Homo sapiens: one gene and its partners. The protein of the gene in region 2 interacts with the protein of the main gene of each other region in a pairwise test. Each region holds a gene or a part of one and is shown on either strand. Other genes may lie near its edges. The genes, in order: ZNF655, SLC12A4, ATF7IP and MTNR1B.

Region 1 (3,567 bases), on a different chromosome or scaffold from region 2:
TAAACAATGTAGTATCTACAAGGACAAGAAAAGTTTATTTACTCTGAAAAACAGGCACAAAATCTCAACAGCAGAAGTTAAGGGCATAAACAGGAGCAGTGAGGTAAAACAGCGGACATGTTCAGCAGAGTAAGGAAATAATAGGGAAACAGCTGAAAGAATTTTAGATAAGCAACTTGATTGGGGTCTAGTACGACATGTGCACGGATACTAAACAAATGGAAAGGGTCAACCTAACTGAAGGGAAAAGGAAGGAACTCTCCATGCTAGGACACACACAGAGCTCTTCATTCTGAGTGCCAAAGCAGCTACAACTTGGCTCAACAATTGAACTTTACTTCCCTACTAATTCTATCTGATTCTGCCTTACTCACCTGAGCAGTCATCTCTTAAGACTTCTCTAGTCTTAGTTTCCAGATCAAAGACCTGTAGATCCTGTTCCAGCTGGGAGATCCCATCAGGCTTGGAAATTGGAAATCCTGCTCATAGAGAAGGAAATGGGATGTGGCAATGTATCCCCAGGTCCTACATCTGCCACTTTTTCTTTTAACTAATGATTAAGAGAGACAGAAGGTCGATTCTGAGAAGACATTAATTAGGAAGGTCTGGAGAGTGAAGAGGGCAAAGATCTACAAGGAGCTCAGATTTGTGCTCTAGAGGGATGTGTGTTAAGGGGCAAGTTGATGACTTGGGAGCAGAAGGATTCATTTAAATATTATTCAGACAACAGAATGTGTGCATGGGTTTGTCTTCACAGAAGTTATCATTATCACTCTCCATCTGTTACCTAAAGATTAATCTTCGGATTAGATCTGGTCTACAAGTATCAAAATGGAGGTCATCAAAATGTAATTCTGCTGGACTGGAGAAAGGTGAAACTCAAGCACCTGCTGCATGGTTAGCTAACCTGTAGCAAGAGAATCAGTGAAAACTGAATAAATATTCTAAGGACCAATCTCAAGAAACAATTTGTTTCAGTACACATAAGAAAACAAAGAGTAATATGACACATTCTTACCCATTAGGAGTGTAGCATTTATTCAACAAACATTTATGAAGTGCCTCCTCTATGCAAAGTATGCAGGGGATAAGAGGCCAAGAAGGTCCCTTCCCTCAAGGACCTCACACTCTACACAGAGACAGCTCTAAACAACTAACTACAATAAAATATAGAGAGGGAAGTGCAATCAGTGCATCTTCACATAAAACAGTCTTTCTATGGCTTGCATAATGCAATGCTTGGATATAAATCTCTTTTAAAGCTAAAGCAACAGGCAGTCTGCTTCCAAGGAGACAGAATTTTAATACTATTAGTATCAAAGGGCAGTTTTTAAATGTGTCCAGCCCAGAAAGCTTCTAATAGCACACATACAAGGTCTGGCTCAAGCCCCTCATCTCCAAAAACCTTTCTCTCCATTTACTGAATGTGTACAAAATTTATTAGTTGTTCCCTCTTATCCTGACATGTCACATATAACGGTGTTTACATAGATTTTTTTTTAAGTGGTTTCAGGTATTGTCATTCATACTTGATTTATAAACTCTTTGATAGAAGGGACCAGGTATCTTGTATCTTGCAATTCTTTTGATTAATTTACTTAACGGCTACTTATTGAGTGCCAACTCTGTGCGCCCAAGTATCAATGTATTAACAGCTACCCAATTTTATAAAAAGGGCATTGGGGCTGGAAAATATGAAGAACTGACAGCTGCCCCAAAGATTCCATGTGAGAGCCTATGAGCAAGGAGATCAGAATAGATAGAAGAAAGGTATTTACTGTGTTTCTGAAATCCTGTGGGACATTTAGAGTCAACTCTCCTTGTGGACATATATTTAATTAAGGTCCACCCTGTCAAATGAAATCGTTTCAGAAGTTTAAAAAGTAAAGTTAGTGTAACATGAAGCAGCAATCAATATTGTTCTCAGAATTCCAATAACATAATTTGCAACTTTTAACTCTGAGATATTTAAAGTGTCTGTCGATATTTGGTAACTGAAATAAATTCTGGCTGCTTACTCCATATCTACACTTAAAACACATATGCACAACAAAAAAGGTGGTCTTCATGTGGGATGAGGGGTTTGATTTTAGATGTGTGTTTAATGTAATGTACGAAGGTATAAGAGAAAATGCCCAGCAGATGAGTACGCAAAGGCATACAGAGTGATAAAATGGACTTCAGAGACTAAGAAGGGAAAGGGTGGGAGAAGGGACAAGGGATAAAAAACTATATATTAGGTACAATGTACACTATTCCAGTGACAGGTGCACTAAAATCTCAGAATTCACCACTATGTATTAGAATTCATCCATGTAACAAAAAACCACTTGTACGCCCCCAAAACTACTGAAATAATTTTTTTTAAAAGAGAAAATGCCTAGCAGGTAAAGATACAATATCACAGTTTAGAAGAGAGAACAGGGTATCATCAGTACCATCAAAATATTATTAAGTTTTACTAAGTACTTGGTAGGTGCAAAGTACCATGCCAAGAGCTCTCTAGGTTTTCACTCATTTAATACCATAAATTTAAAACGTAGAAACTATTATTATAGCCATTTTACAGATGGGAATACTAAGATTCAGAGTGGTTAAGTAGCTTGCCCAAGGTTACAATAACTGGTAATGCTTAGTTTTCAAACCTGCACAGTCTTATTTCAGAACCTAGCCTTTAAACAATCTGCTAGTAAAAAAAAAATTATGATTTTGCCTCCTAACAAGCCCTGAAAAAAAATAAATAATGACTGTGAACAAAATCCATCCCTTCCTCCAAATTACACACAGAAAGAACGTGTAAGTTTTCTTGGCACTAGCCTAAATGCCTATTTCCTAAATTTAACTCAAAACTTTGCTTTCAAAATATGCACTTGCTTTATTTACATTTTTCCTGTTTAAAATTAATGTATTAAAACTTTTTGATTTTATTTAAATCTTGAGTTTTCTAATATGATTTATAAAATATTGACAGTGAAGTAAAAGGTAAATACAAACAACAGAGAAAAAGTGATTAGAATAACATACGGTGAACCAGGATCCTAAATAATTGGAGTCGCAGAAGTGTTAATTAAAAGGGATCTATGGCTGGGCACAGAAGCTCACACCTGTAATCCCAGCACTTTGGGAGGCCATGACGGACAGATCACTTCAGCCCAAGAGTCTGAGACCAGCCTGGGCAACATAGTGAGATCCCACCTCTACAAAAAATACAAAAATTAGCCAGGCATGGTGGCACACGCCTGTAGTCCCAGCTACTTGGGAGGCAGAGGCAGAATGATCGCTTGAGCTCAGAAGGCCGAGGCTGCAGAGAGCCAAGATCACACCACTGTACTCCAGCCTGGGTGAGAGTGAGATCCTGTCAGTCAGTCAGTCAGTCAATCAACCAACAAACGAATCAAGAGGATCTATGGACCAGGCATGGTGGCTCACACGTGTAATCCCAGCACTTTGAGAGGTCAAGGCAGGAGGATCTCATGAGCTCAGGAATTTGAGACCTGCTTGGGGAACATAGTGAGACTCCATCTCTACAAAAAATTAAAATTAAAAATTAAAAGGGATCTAAAAGAT
Region 2 (3,567 bases):
AGTCTTCTCTGGCCAGGACAGGCCTACTGGGGTGCTAGATAGTAAAGTCCCCAAACATCCCAGGGTCCCACAAGACCTGGGATCCATCTCCATTTTGAGGCCCAGGCCTGGTTTCCAAGGAGACCTAGCAAAGCTGGGTCCAGGACAGGGCCAGGCAAGCAGGGCTGGCAGGTGGGTGCTGGGAAGAGGCTGTTACCCCAGACCACAGCTTGTTATGTCCTGGCCAAGACCTCGACTCCAGGCCACAAGATGACACTGGGCTCAGGAGTAGATGGTGATGACTTCACGGCCACCACCGCGCACCAACAGCACCCGCTCAAGGCCCTCGGTCAGCACCTCGAGGAACTCCATGTCTGCAGGGCCTCAAGTCAAGGAGGCAACAACAGAATCAACGGGCAACCCGGGCCACCTGGGCCATGCCCACCCAGGGGTGCCCAGGAGAGAAGCCGCTGGCTTGACCTCCCATGCTATCCACCTCCCAACTGCCTGCCTCTCCACAAAGGGATACAGTTCTCGTCGCCCTCACTGTTCCTGGGTGGGCCAGGCATGTTTAGGAGAACCAGGCGGGCGTCGTGGGAGCGCGTGACAATGACTTCATTGAGCTTCACAGCAGTGTGCATGCGCCGCACATTGGATTGGTCCCTACACGTAGTGTAGCCAGTCACAGGTCGCCATGAGCCATCCTGCAAGGAGGGTCCCCACCCCTGGCCCATCTAACACTACTTGTCTGCCCCACCCCACCTCCACCCCTAGATTCCAGTGCCGCTGGGGCTGTTTTTGCTGCACTCACGGCTTAATGTGCACCAGCTCCCGGAAATTGTCAGGGGCATGGCTGGGGTCCCAGGTCTCAGTCATGTACTTGTCCCTGGTCCACGTCATCTGGATCTTGTCAGCCCCCACTGCAGACTCATCTTCCTCGTCCGAGTACAGGCTCTCCAGCCGCAGGGCCGAGTGCCGATCCTTGACCAGCTGGGCCTGAGGACAATTGCAGGAGATAGCCTTGGTCCCATAGGAAAAGGGGGATGGGGCCTGTCTGGCCCAATGTGACCACCTTGCCTCCGGGAAATGAGCACTAGCTTGGGTAGGGCTGCGGTGAGTCATTCTGATTCCTCCGCACCCACCGATGCGGTCTCCAAAGGCCTGACCCTGCCACCCGCCCTGGCGTGAACCACAAAGGGCACTGACTTCTCGCTCCCGCTCAGTCTTGGTCAGTCTCATCTGCCGCAGCATCTGCGACCGCTGCTCCATCATCAGCGTCCGCTCGTAGGTGTATGCAGAGATGTCACTGTTATGCTGGGGACAGGGTTGGCCGTGAGGACCCAGCTGCACGGGACATGGTATCCACGGGGCCAGGGCAGGGCAGAGGGCTCACCATCTCCACCACCTCCACCTCGGCCTCAAGGCGCAGATGGTACAGAAAGACAGCCAGGTCCTTCTTCATCTGGATGCTGTTGTCATCCATCTGGGCCACTGTGAAGATGCGCATCCGGCACTTCCTCCAGACCTGAGGCAAGGGACCAGGTGGGCGGTTTGGTCACAGCTGCTCCTCCAAGGGCCTAGCCCCTCTCATCTGCACCCACCCCCTGGTCTACCTTATGCTGGCGCAGCAGGAAGGGCAGAAGCATGAGCATGCCACCATCGTGCACGATCCACCACACGTCTATGTGGCCCTCCAGGTAGCGCTCGTGGTTGCTGGGGTAGAAGGCGATGTTCTTGGGCACGAGCAGGGCCAGGTGGGCAGCCGTAGTGCAGCGCACGGTGTCTGGGGAGGAGGAGCACGGCTGACCACCAGTCTGTGGCCCTCCGCCCACTGCCACCTCACTTCACCCCTGCCCACCAGGCCCCAGGCCTTCACACACCAATGAAGGTCTTCCAGGCACGGGGGTCCTCGCTCTGTCGCCAGCCGTAGGGCCAGCCCAGCACCACGGAGTTATGCCGCATGCCTCCCAGGCCACAGGACTGGATGAGGTGGGCCAGCCCCTCCCGCACCTTGCTGGCCACCACCACCTGGCAGAAGCCCTTCACCTTCTCAATTTCCATCATGTTCTTGATGGTCTGTGGGGAACACACCCAGGGCCAATGGGAGGCCATCAGCTTCCTGCCTCTGGGCTCCCTCCCAAGGCCCCTCGGGAACAAAACGACTTTTGGGTGGAGGAGGGCCTGGGGGCAACAAGCTGCCTACCCAGAGGCCAAGTTTTCAAGATGGGACTGCTGGCTCCCCCTTGTGCCAGCTCTCAGGTGGCAGCAGTGCTGGCTGCCTGGCTGGCCACCCTGGCCAAGACTGGGCCCTCCCCTCCGTGCCAGCTGCAGTCCAGACCCCTGTAGTCTGGCTCAGCTCTCCCTCCCCAAAGCAAGTACCTGCTCGGCGGCCTGAGCCTCGCCATAGCTCTCCAAGAAGCTCCCCTGGATGACAGAACCAACAATGGTCAGGCCCTTGCCAGCCTTGAGCTGGGAGGCGAAGGTGAGGAGCCGCGGGTACTTCACGTGGAGGTCCTCGTCCAGCTTCAGCAGCACCAGCAGCTGCGGCCTGCAGTGGCCGGGTGGGGGGAGCCTGAGACCAGGGCCGGCCGTTCTAGGGAGCCCCTCCTCTTCTTCCCTTCTCGGGTCGTGGTCCCTGCAGGTTTGGGTAGCATGGCCCAGGAGGGTGCCCCGGGCAGCCCCAGGATGGGGAGCCGGCACCTCTCGACCCTCTGACCCCGACAGCGACCCCTAAGAACCTCTGCGCCCTGGCCAGGGTCTGGCGGGAACTCACCGCCAGTTCTTGGTGTGAGGAGGCCCCTCCTCCAGCCGCAACAGCGCGTAGCGGGCAGCGCTCAGGGACAGGCCTCGGATCCCGTCACCCCACTCCTTCTCAGCCCTGCAGATTCCACCACAGCTGGTGAGCCCCTGGTGCCGCCCAGGGGGTTCTGTCTATGTGGATGCGAGGTGGAGGGGTTCTGCCCCTCAAGACCACCCAGGGGTCCTGAGTTACAGTCCCCAGTCCTGGCACCCACGGTGGCCCAGCTCCCTGCCCACCCCAATGCCAGACCACCCTGCCTGCTCGGCCGGGCCCCCTCAGCTGGCAGAGGCCAGGTGGCAGTGCTCACTCACCCTTGGTACTCGATGTATTTGTAGATCATGCCGGCGATGAGCATGGCCACCAGGGCATAGTACCAGGAGGAGACAAACATAAGGGCCAGGCAGAGACTCATGCCCAGGAAGGACAGCGCCCTGGACGAGAGGGGAGGGCAGAGTCAGGGCAGGACCAGGAGGACCCCTGGCCACAGCCTGGCCCATGCCCTGGTAGCCCTGTCAGGTCCCGGGTGGGAGGTCCCAGGTGGGTGGTCAGGTCACTGGGTGTAAGACCTAGGTCCAGTCCCCCGCAGCCCTATAATCTCCCTCCCCACAGTGTTTCAAGAGCTCCCTACCCAGGAAACCCAAGCCTCACCCAGAATGAGGCTCCTGGCCTCCCCAGGGTCTCCCGTGTCAGAGGCATGGCTCACCAGTGATAGTACTTGAACCGGGGCCGCCAGTTGGGGGTCCTCAGGAGTGTCTGCACCGCACAGGCGAGGTTCACGAACAGGTAGC
Region 3 (3,567 bases), on a different chromosome or scaffold from region 2:
CAGTGGCCAGATCATCAGAGGCCAGTTCACTAGAGGATAGATCACCAGAGGCCAGATCATCAGAGGCTGGATCAGTGGAAGCTGGTGCTCCAGAAGCCAGATCAACAGAAGTTATTTCACTAGAGGCTATATCATCAGCGGCACAATCACCAGAAATGGGTTCAACAGGGACCGGTTCACCTGGGATGGGATCACTAGAGGTGGGATCACCAGAGGAGAGATCATCAGCAGTGGCATCACCAGAGGTGGCATCACCAGGGGACACATCACCAGAAGGGGCATCACCAGAGGTTGCATCACCAGAGGCAGCATCACTAGAGGAGGGCTCGCTAGAGGTGGGATCACCAGAGGTGGAATCACCAGAGGCCAGTACTCCGGAGGCTGGATCTCCGGCATCCAGATCACCAGGGGCTGGATCACCAGAAACTGGTTCAGCAGGCAGTTTAGAGACTGGTTCTGGAGTTATATTATGGGGAGACAAAGGTTCACAATTTAAATCATCATCCTGCTTGTTTTTTACATTAACACTTAGGATACAGGGTGTTTCCTTCCATTCTGCTTTACTTCCTTCAGGATCAAAACAAATCTCTTCAATGCCATTCACCTCTTCCTTGTCTTTAATGTAATCCATGTTTTCCAAAGGTGAGGTTGGGTCCAAATCTCCATTTTCATGGTTGCCATTTAACAGCTTGACATCAGTTTTCAACAGTTCTTCTTTGACCTTGTACACTGCTTCAAGTTGCTGACGATCACTCACTCTCATCGTTTTTCGAGCCTTAAAGACTTTTTTCTGAGGTTCTTCTAAACTGTCCATTCTGAATCTTTAAGAAAAAAGAGAAAGAGAGTTTAATAACTGAAACAGAAGCCACCTAATTGTAGACTTAATACAAATTGATCTTAGAAGAGATGCAAGCAGCACATTTCATGTAATGTTTAAGACATAGAAAACCTACTGCTTGTTGTATACTAATTATCATATTTACTGCATCTGTGTAATACAAAATCAAAAATGGCCATAGTCTACTAGAAAATCAACTAGAAAGTATTAGGGGGAAAAGGGACAAGTTTTTTTTTCCAATATGGAATTCACAGAGTATGGAGATGTTTAAGCAAAAAAAAGGTAGATAAAGTAAAAAAAAAAAAAAAAAAAAAAAAGTACCTGAAGAAAATGAGAAAGAAAAATAAAAGTGTAAGAACAACAGTAGGGAAATAACAGGTATAGAGATAAAGGAAAAAGGAGGAAGAATTAAGAAACATGTAAGGAAAGATTACATTTGCAACCAAGCATACTTAGATTGGCAGAACTATAAACATATTAACAAAAGATTACCATCAAGAAAGAAAATTCACAACAATGGGAGAAAATATTTGCAAATCATATGCCTGATAAGACTTTTATCTCGAATCTAGAATTTCATATCTAGAATACAGAATATATATTTATATAGAATACAGACTTTTATATCTAGAATATCTAAGAACTGCTATAATTCAATAATAAATCACCCAATTTAAAAATGGTCAAAGGACTTGAACAGACATTTCCAGAAAGAGACCCCTAAGCCAAAAGTCCATAAGCAATAAACATCATGAGACATCAGGGAAACGCAAGTCAAAACCACAATGAAATAACACTGCACACACGACAGGACGGCTACAATCAACGAGAATAATGAGTGTTGGCAAGGATGTGAAAAAACTGGAACTTTCATACAATGATAGTGGGATTGCAAATAGGTGCAGCTGCTTTGGAAAACAGGCAGTTCCACAATATGTGAAGTACAGAGTTGTCATATGACCCAGTGATTCCATTCCATTCATTTCCCAAGAGAAATGAAAACATATGTCCACACAAAAACTTGTACACAAATGCTCTATAGAGGCACTACTCATAATGGCCCAAAACTGGAAACAACCTAAATGTTCCATAACTGATGAATGGATAAATAAAATGTGCCATACCCCTACAACAGAATATCATTCAACCACAAAGGGGAATGAAGTACTGAACATGCTACTACATGCATAAACCTTAAAAATATGCTGAGTGAGAGAAGCCAGTCACAAAAGGCCACATACTGAATGATTCAATTTATATGAAATGTCCAGAGTAGGCAAATCTAGAGACAGAAAGTAAATCAGTGACTACCTAGGGTTGGAAGATTCTGGAGAAAATGAGGAGTAGCTGCTAAAGGGTACAGGATTTCTTTACAGGGTTATGAAAATGTTCTAACATTGATTATGGTGATGATTATACAGCTCTGTGAATATACTAAAAATAACTGAATTGTACTTTAAGTGGGTGAATAGTAGATATGTGGTTTTATCTCAGTAATGCCACTACAAAAAAATTTCAAAATAAATACAAAGGTTGTGTGTGTGTGTGTGTGTGTGTGTGTGTGTGTGTGTGTGTGTGTATTCTCTTTTTTTGGTAAGTTGTGCTACAGTTTTATCAATTCTATTCACTTATTAAAGTATGAACCTTTACTTGGCTGATATTTCTTGGTTTTATATCTGCTTTCTTGTTTTAATTATTTACTCTAATATTTATTATCTCTTTTCACTTACTTTTTCTTGGAAAGAGCTTAACATGTCATCCTTTTCCTTGAGATTCAAGCTTAAGTGTTATTTTCAATCTTTCTTCTTTTGTAATGTGTGCATATAAAGCTATAAATTTCCCTCTAAGAGCTGCTTTAGTTGCATCTCACATTTTAATGTGTCATTTACATTATTCTGTTAAAATATTTTCTAATTTCCATCATGATTTCTTCTTTCATCTATGACTTATTTAGAAGTAGGTTTCTTAAAAAGGTAATGAATTCTGACCAAGTGAAGCTCGCTTAGAAAAATACAAGGCTGATTTCACATTCAAAAATCAAGCAGTGTTGACCATGAACAAGCCATGATGCATTCTGACTTTATTTCATGCCCAGCAGAGTGTACAATTACGAGTTTTGCCTAAACTGAATGTCTGGTACCAGGATGTTACTGACTGAATTGTGCAGCATCCCACACCCCACATCCCCAGAAAGATATTAGTCTTAAGCCCCAGTACCTCAGAATGTGACCTTATTCGGATAGGGCCTTTACAGTGGTAATCAAGGTAATATAAGGGTACTAAAGTGAGCCCTAATCCAATACAATTGGTGTCCTTATAAAAAGGGGAAAATCTGGACACAGACAGACATGCACACTGGGAGAATGCCATGTGACAATTGAAGTTATGGTACCACAAGCCAAGCAACTACCAGAAGCTAGGAGAGAGGCCTGGAACAGATCCTTCCCTCAGCACCCTCAGAGGGAGAATGGCAATGACAACACCGTGATTTCAAATGTGTTGCCTCCAGAACTCTGAGACGATAAACTTCTGTTAAGCAAAAAAGAAAACCACAAAACAAATCAAGCTATTTAATTCACCACATAAACAGAACAGAGGGACAAAATCAACAAAGGATTACCTCAACAAATACAGAATATTCATTTGACAAAATTCAAGACTGATGCATAATTACAACTTGCCAGAAACTAAGAATACAAGGAAACTTACTCAAATCTGATAAAGGTTAT
Region 4 (4,047 bases), on a different chromosome or scaffold from region 2:
CCACATGCAGCAACAGACACTACAGATAGGATATCCCTGAAAAAAAAAAGACAATTAATCTAACCACTCACCCTGCCATCAGGAGCGGCACTGTTAGGAATGATACAGATCTGCTCCATAGAGGAACTGGGTTTGTGATAGGCAAGTAAAGGATACTGGTGTCTCCTGGGAAACATGCTGTGACCTCAATATGGGCTATGTATCTTGGTTATTGGAAATATATGTATTCTCATTGTTACAGACTTAATTTTTTAATACCAATGATTTAAGGAGCCAGACTTAAGTACAGAAAGGTCTGAAGAAGCGTTTCTTAAATTAAATCCAAACTCTTCAGTAAGACAAGGCCTGATTAAGAGTAGAATGTGTGCTAACTATTCAAAGAGCTGTAGGTTTTAAGCGCCTTTTGAAATCTCACTCTGCTGAGATCATTTAGTTCAAGTCAGTACTACAATTGTTTGTGACTGTCACCAATAAAGCCAGAGGTCACATAAGAACTGGTTAAATTGCAAGACTGCAGCAGTGGCAGGAATTGATGTCATTTAGATATAGTGTTATTATTATTTTTTTTTGTTCGGGTGCTGGGCTGTAGCGGACACATCAGGAGGTAGGAAAGATAGAACAGAGGATATGCCAGCAATTTAACATGCTCATGACCCTCCCCAGTGATGCTCTTAAACTGGTTAGGTTTCTGCAGACCCTGCCAGGATCACAGAAAAGGCCAGCCCTCTGTAGGATGCAGGAGGGGAGGGGTGCTTTTCTCCTTCCAGCAAAAGGAAGCAACTCCTACTTCCCTCAACCACCTTTCTCATGGTGGGCAATCCAAATTACTGAGCAGGGAGCCATGGCCTGACAGACCTGCTCTAAATACTCAATAAGTCAGGGACAGAAGGGGCCAATGTCAGAACCAGGAGGACCCATTTCTCCCCCATAGAGCCAGGAGTTGTCTCCCTTTTGCTTCCCTGTGCTGGAAATGAATGTTTATGATGGCTGCAAGGGACAATGTGTCAAAAATATTAAATGCAGTTTTCTAATCATAACCTGTTTTTCCCTAATATATAAGCTTTTCTTCAAAGGACACAATATTTTGAACAATGTATTCCAGAAAACAGCCACCACTACTGAAGTGAGTTAGAAAGTTTACTTCTTCTTAATAATGTTATGTTTCCCATATGATGGCTGGATACTCACAGTTGGAGGAGTTTCTTGTTTGTTTTTTTAGCTAAAAATCCTAGAGTTGGCCGGGCGCAGTGGCTCATGCCTGTAATTCCAGCACTTTGGGAGGCCGAGGCGGGTGGATCACTTGAGGTCAGGAGTTCGAGACCAGCCTGGCCAACATGGTGAAATACTGTGTCTACCAAAAATATAAAAAATTACCTGGGTGTAGTGGCGAGCGCCTGTAATCCCAGCTACTCGGGAGGCTGAGGCAAGAGAATCCCTTGAACCTGGGAGGCAGAGGTTGCAGTGAGCCTAGACCATGCCACTGCACTCCAGCCTGGGTGACAGAGTGAGAGACTCCATCTCAAAAAAAAAAAATTTCTAGAGTCACAGGCCACACCAAATACATATTACTATTTGCTAAAAATGGTCTGACTCCTTAGAAAAGCATTTTTAAGCTATATGGTTGTTTTACTGCTGCTATCTTTCCATTTTAATTCACTCTAATATTTGAATTTGCTCCCAAGGCCCAACTTGAAGAAACTGCAAAATTAACAAACAGGTGACTGAGCTCCTTCCTAAGCTGAAGTGGTCATCATGCCCCATGACCTGTGAGGGCTAGAGTTCAGATACTGCCCCCCACTCTGGTTTTGTTTCTTTGAAGACCTGACTAGGGGAATATTGAAATGAGAGTGGATTGAAATAGGAAAAATATTTTCAGGATTACAACACGATTTAGCCAAATCATTGCTTTAATTTTCACAGTTAATCCCAGGAATTCCCAGTCTTCGGAAAAGACCACAATATTTCAAAGCAATTTAGTTCAGTCCAAGCAGAATCTGCAATTTCTGCATTTACTCTCCGTCAACTGGAATTGGGTCTTCAGATGACCTGGAGATAAGTTTTTGACACAAAACCTACTGAAATGCTTCCATTGATTAACTCATTTTTTCAGCAAGGATTTTCTAAGCGACTACTACATAAAGCTACAGTGCTTGGCAAGGAAGGAAGTGGGATGTCAAGTACAGGTGGTGAGATTTCTGTGGCCTGATGTGGGCACCTCTGGAAAGACACGCATTGGAGCGCGACGGGGTAGCGATGGCATCCAGCAGCGTGGGTTCCCACAGCGCCGGCGCCCGGCCAAAAAGCGCGCCAGTAAAACTTTCCGCAATTCCCTCTGTGCCAAGCGCGTCCTGGGCAGCCGCACTTCGGAGGGGCAAAACTCACCCTAACTTTTGAGTGCAGAGTCAAACTTAAGGAATAGGTTAGAGTGAAGGGAAAGGGGAGCCCGGGCTGAGGAGGGAAAAGGCAGCGCATATCCCGGGGTCAGGGACAAGATCAGAAGACAAGGAAGGGCCCGATGCCAGCACCCAGCATCAGGAATGGTGCTCACCTGCGTTCCGGAGCTTGCGGTTCCTGAGCACGGAGAGGATCACCAGGAGGTTGCCCACGACGTCCACGGCGGTGGTGACGATGAGCACCGCGGACAGCGCTGGAGCCACCCAGGGAGGTCGAGGGGTCCTGGAGGGCCGCGCGCTGCCAGCCCCCGACCAGCCCGGGCGCACTGCCCACCCGCCCGCCTCGCAGCAGTTGGCGAAGGAGCCGTTCTCTGACATCGCAGACTCTCCCGCGCTGTGCTTTGGCCACCGCGCGGCCCCGGACAGCCGCAGGGCGCGCGCAGTACTGAGCCGGGCGCTCTCTTCCCTGCCCAGCTCGCGTGTGCAAGGGAGGAGGCCAGTGGGGAGGGGTCTGGAGGAGATAACTAATTAAGCGTGGGCAGGGGATGGAGAAAAATATAGGAATGGGAGGAGGACTTGGGGTGCAGCCGTTGTAGAAGGGAGTGCGTCCCTCAGCGGTGCGCTCAGGAACAGCTGGGACCGCACAGCTGTCTCTGCCACCCCGAGCCCAGCAGGTGCCTGGCCCACCTCAGGCTGCGGAGCGCGTCTAGCTTCTGTCCCTGAGTATATAGCCACACCCGAGACCCCGATTTCCTCCACAGCGTCCCCAAGAGAAGCTGTGTCTAGGTAGGGACGTCCAACCCAGGTTGATAGACTGGAGAAGGTGCTGATGGTAGGGACCTCCCATCAGTTGTCAAGAAAGGCAAGGTTTGACGTCCCATAGGGCTGTGCAGCCCGAAAGAGAATGCAACTCCTAAGATGTGGGGACAGAGCCCAGAACAAAGTAGGGTAGACTGTTATATTCTAGGGAGCTGCAGAAAAATACGAACCTAGCCATTTTCCAAGCACTCGCTGGGTATTGTGGGGGGCATTGATGATGTCTCTACTGGGTCCTCTTTATAAAGCCAATACTTTAACATATTTACCAACATATATTTACACATAATACTTAAATAGATGTATGGCCAATATTGGGGGTTATGATGTGGTTTTTGGAGGGGTTAGGACAAGAAGAAGATTGAGGCATGATTACAATAAAGAAGGAACTCAGGTGCCCTTTATTAAAAATGTTTGAGTCGTGATCTGGTGATAATAATAATAGATAACTTCTAATGGGGGCTAATCTTATGACCCCAAAGCACTTTTCACACCCATTAGAATCACTAAAATCAAAATGACTGATTATCCTATATTTGTGGAGGAAGTTAAGCAACCAGAACCCTCATACACTGCTTTTATGAGAATGCAAAATGGTATAGCCACTTTGAAGAGCTGTCTGTTAGCTCCTAATAAAGTTAAATATACACCTATTCTATGACCAGAAGTTCCAAATGAAAAGGAAAGTATATTTCCACCAAAAGACCTGTACAAGAATGTCCAGAGCAGCCTTGTTTATAGGAGCTCAAATCTGGTAACACCTGCAATTTCCACCAACAGAAGAATGGATAAGCAAATTATGGTATGACCTTGCAATGGAATACTACTCAGCAATAAA

What was found.
Region 1: the proteins of SLC12A4 (region 2) and ZNF655 interact in binary tests that used the Homo sapiens proteins (3 or more experiments, as listed by UniProt).
Region 3: the proteins of SLC12A4 (region 2) and ATF7IP interact in a two-hybrid assay, tested with the Homo sapiens proteins (one large-scale study listed by IntAct).
Region 4: the proteins of SLC12A4 (region 2) and MTNR1B interact in a two-hybrid assay, tested with the Homo sapiens proteins (one large-scale study listed by BioGRID and IntAct).

The regions. Positions count from the first base shown.
Region 1 is NC_000007.14:99,568,600-99,572,166, reverse strand, and holds part of ZNF655 (zinc finger protein 655), read right to left. Parts: intron 480-3,567; coding exon of another isoform or gene 375-479; intron 1-374. UniProt on the Homo sapiens protein: Probable transcription factor.
Region 2 is NC_000016.10:67,944,579-67,948,145, forward strand, and holds part of SLC12A4 (solute carrier family 12 member 4), read right to left. Parts: coding exon 3,483-3,567; intron 3,211-3,482; coding exon 3,091-3,210; intron 2,858-3,090; coding exon 2,753-2,857; intron 2,528-2,752; coding exon 2,359-2,527; intron 2,056-2,358; coding exon 1,860-2,055; intron 1,763-1,859; coding exon 1,593-1,762; intron 1,505-1,592; coding exon 1,373-1,504; intron 1,294-1,372; coding exon 1,186-1,293; intron 976-1,185; coding exon 791-975; intron 643-790; coding exon 509-642; intron 354-508; coding exon 262-353; 3' UTR 1-261. UniProt on the Homo sapiens protein: Mediates electroneutral potassium-chloride cotransport when activated by cell swelling. May contribute to cell volume homeostasis in single cells. May be involved in the regulation of basolateral Cl(-) exit in NaCl absorbing epithelia.
Region 3 is NC_000012.12:14,421,163-14,424,729, reverse strand, and holds part of ATF7IP (activating transcription factor 7-interacting protein 1), read right to left. Parts: intron 822-3,567; coding exon of another isoform or gene 815-821; coding exon 1-814. UniProt on the Homo sapiens protein: Recruiter that couples transcriptional factors to general transcription apparatus and thereby modulates transcription regulation and chromatin formation. Can both act as an activator or a repressor depending on the context.
Region 4 is NC_000011.10:92,968,450-92,972,496, reverse strand, and holds the start of MTNR1B (melatonin receptor type 1B), read right to left. Parts: upstream 2,847-4,047; 5' UTR 2,772-2,846; coding exon 2,549-2,771; intron 1-2,548.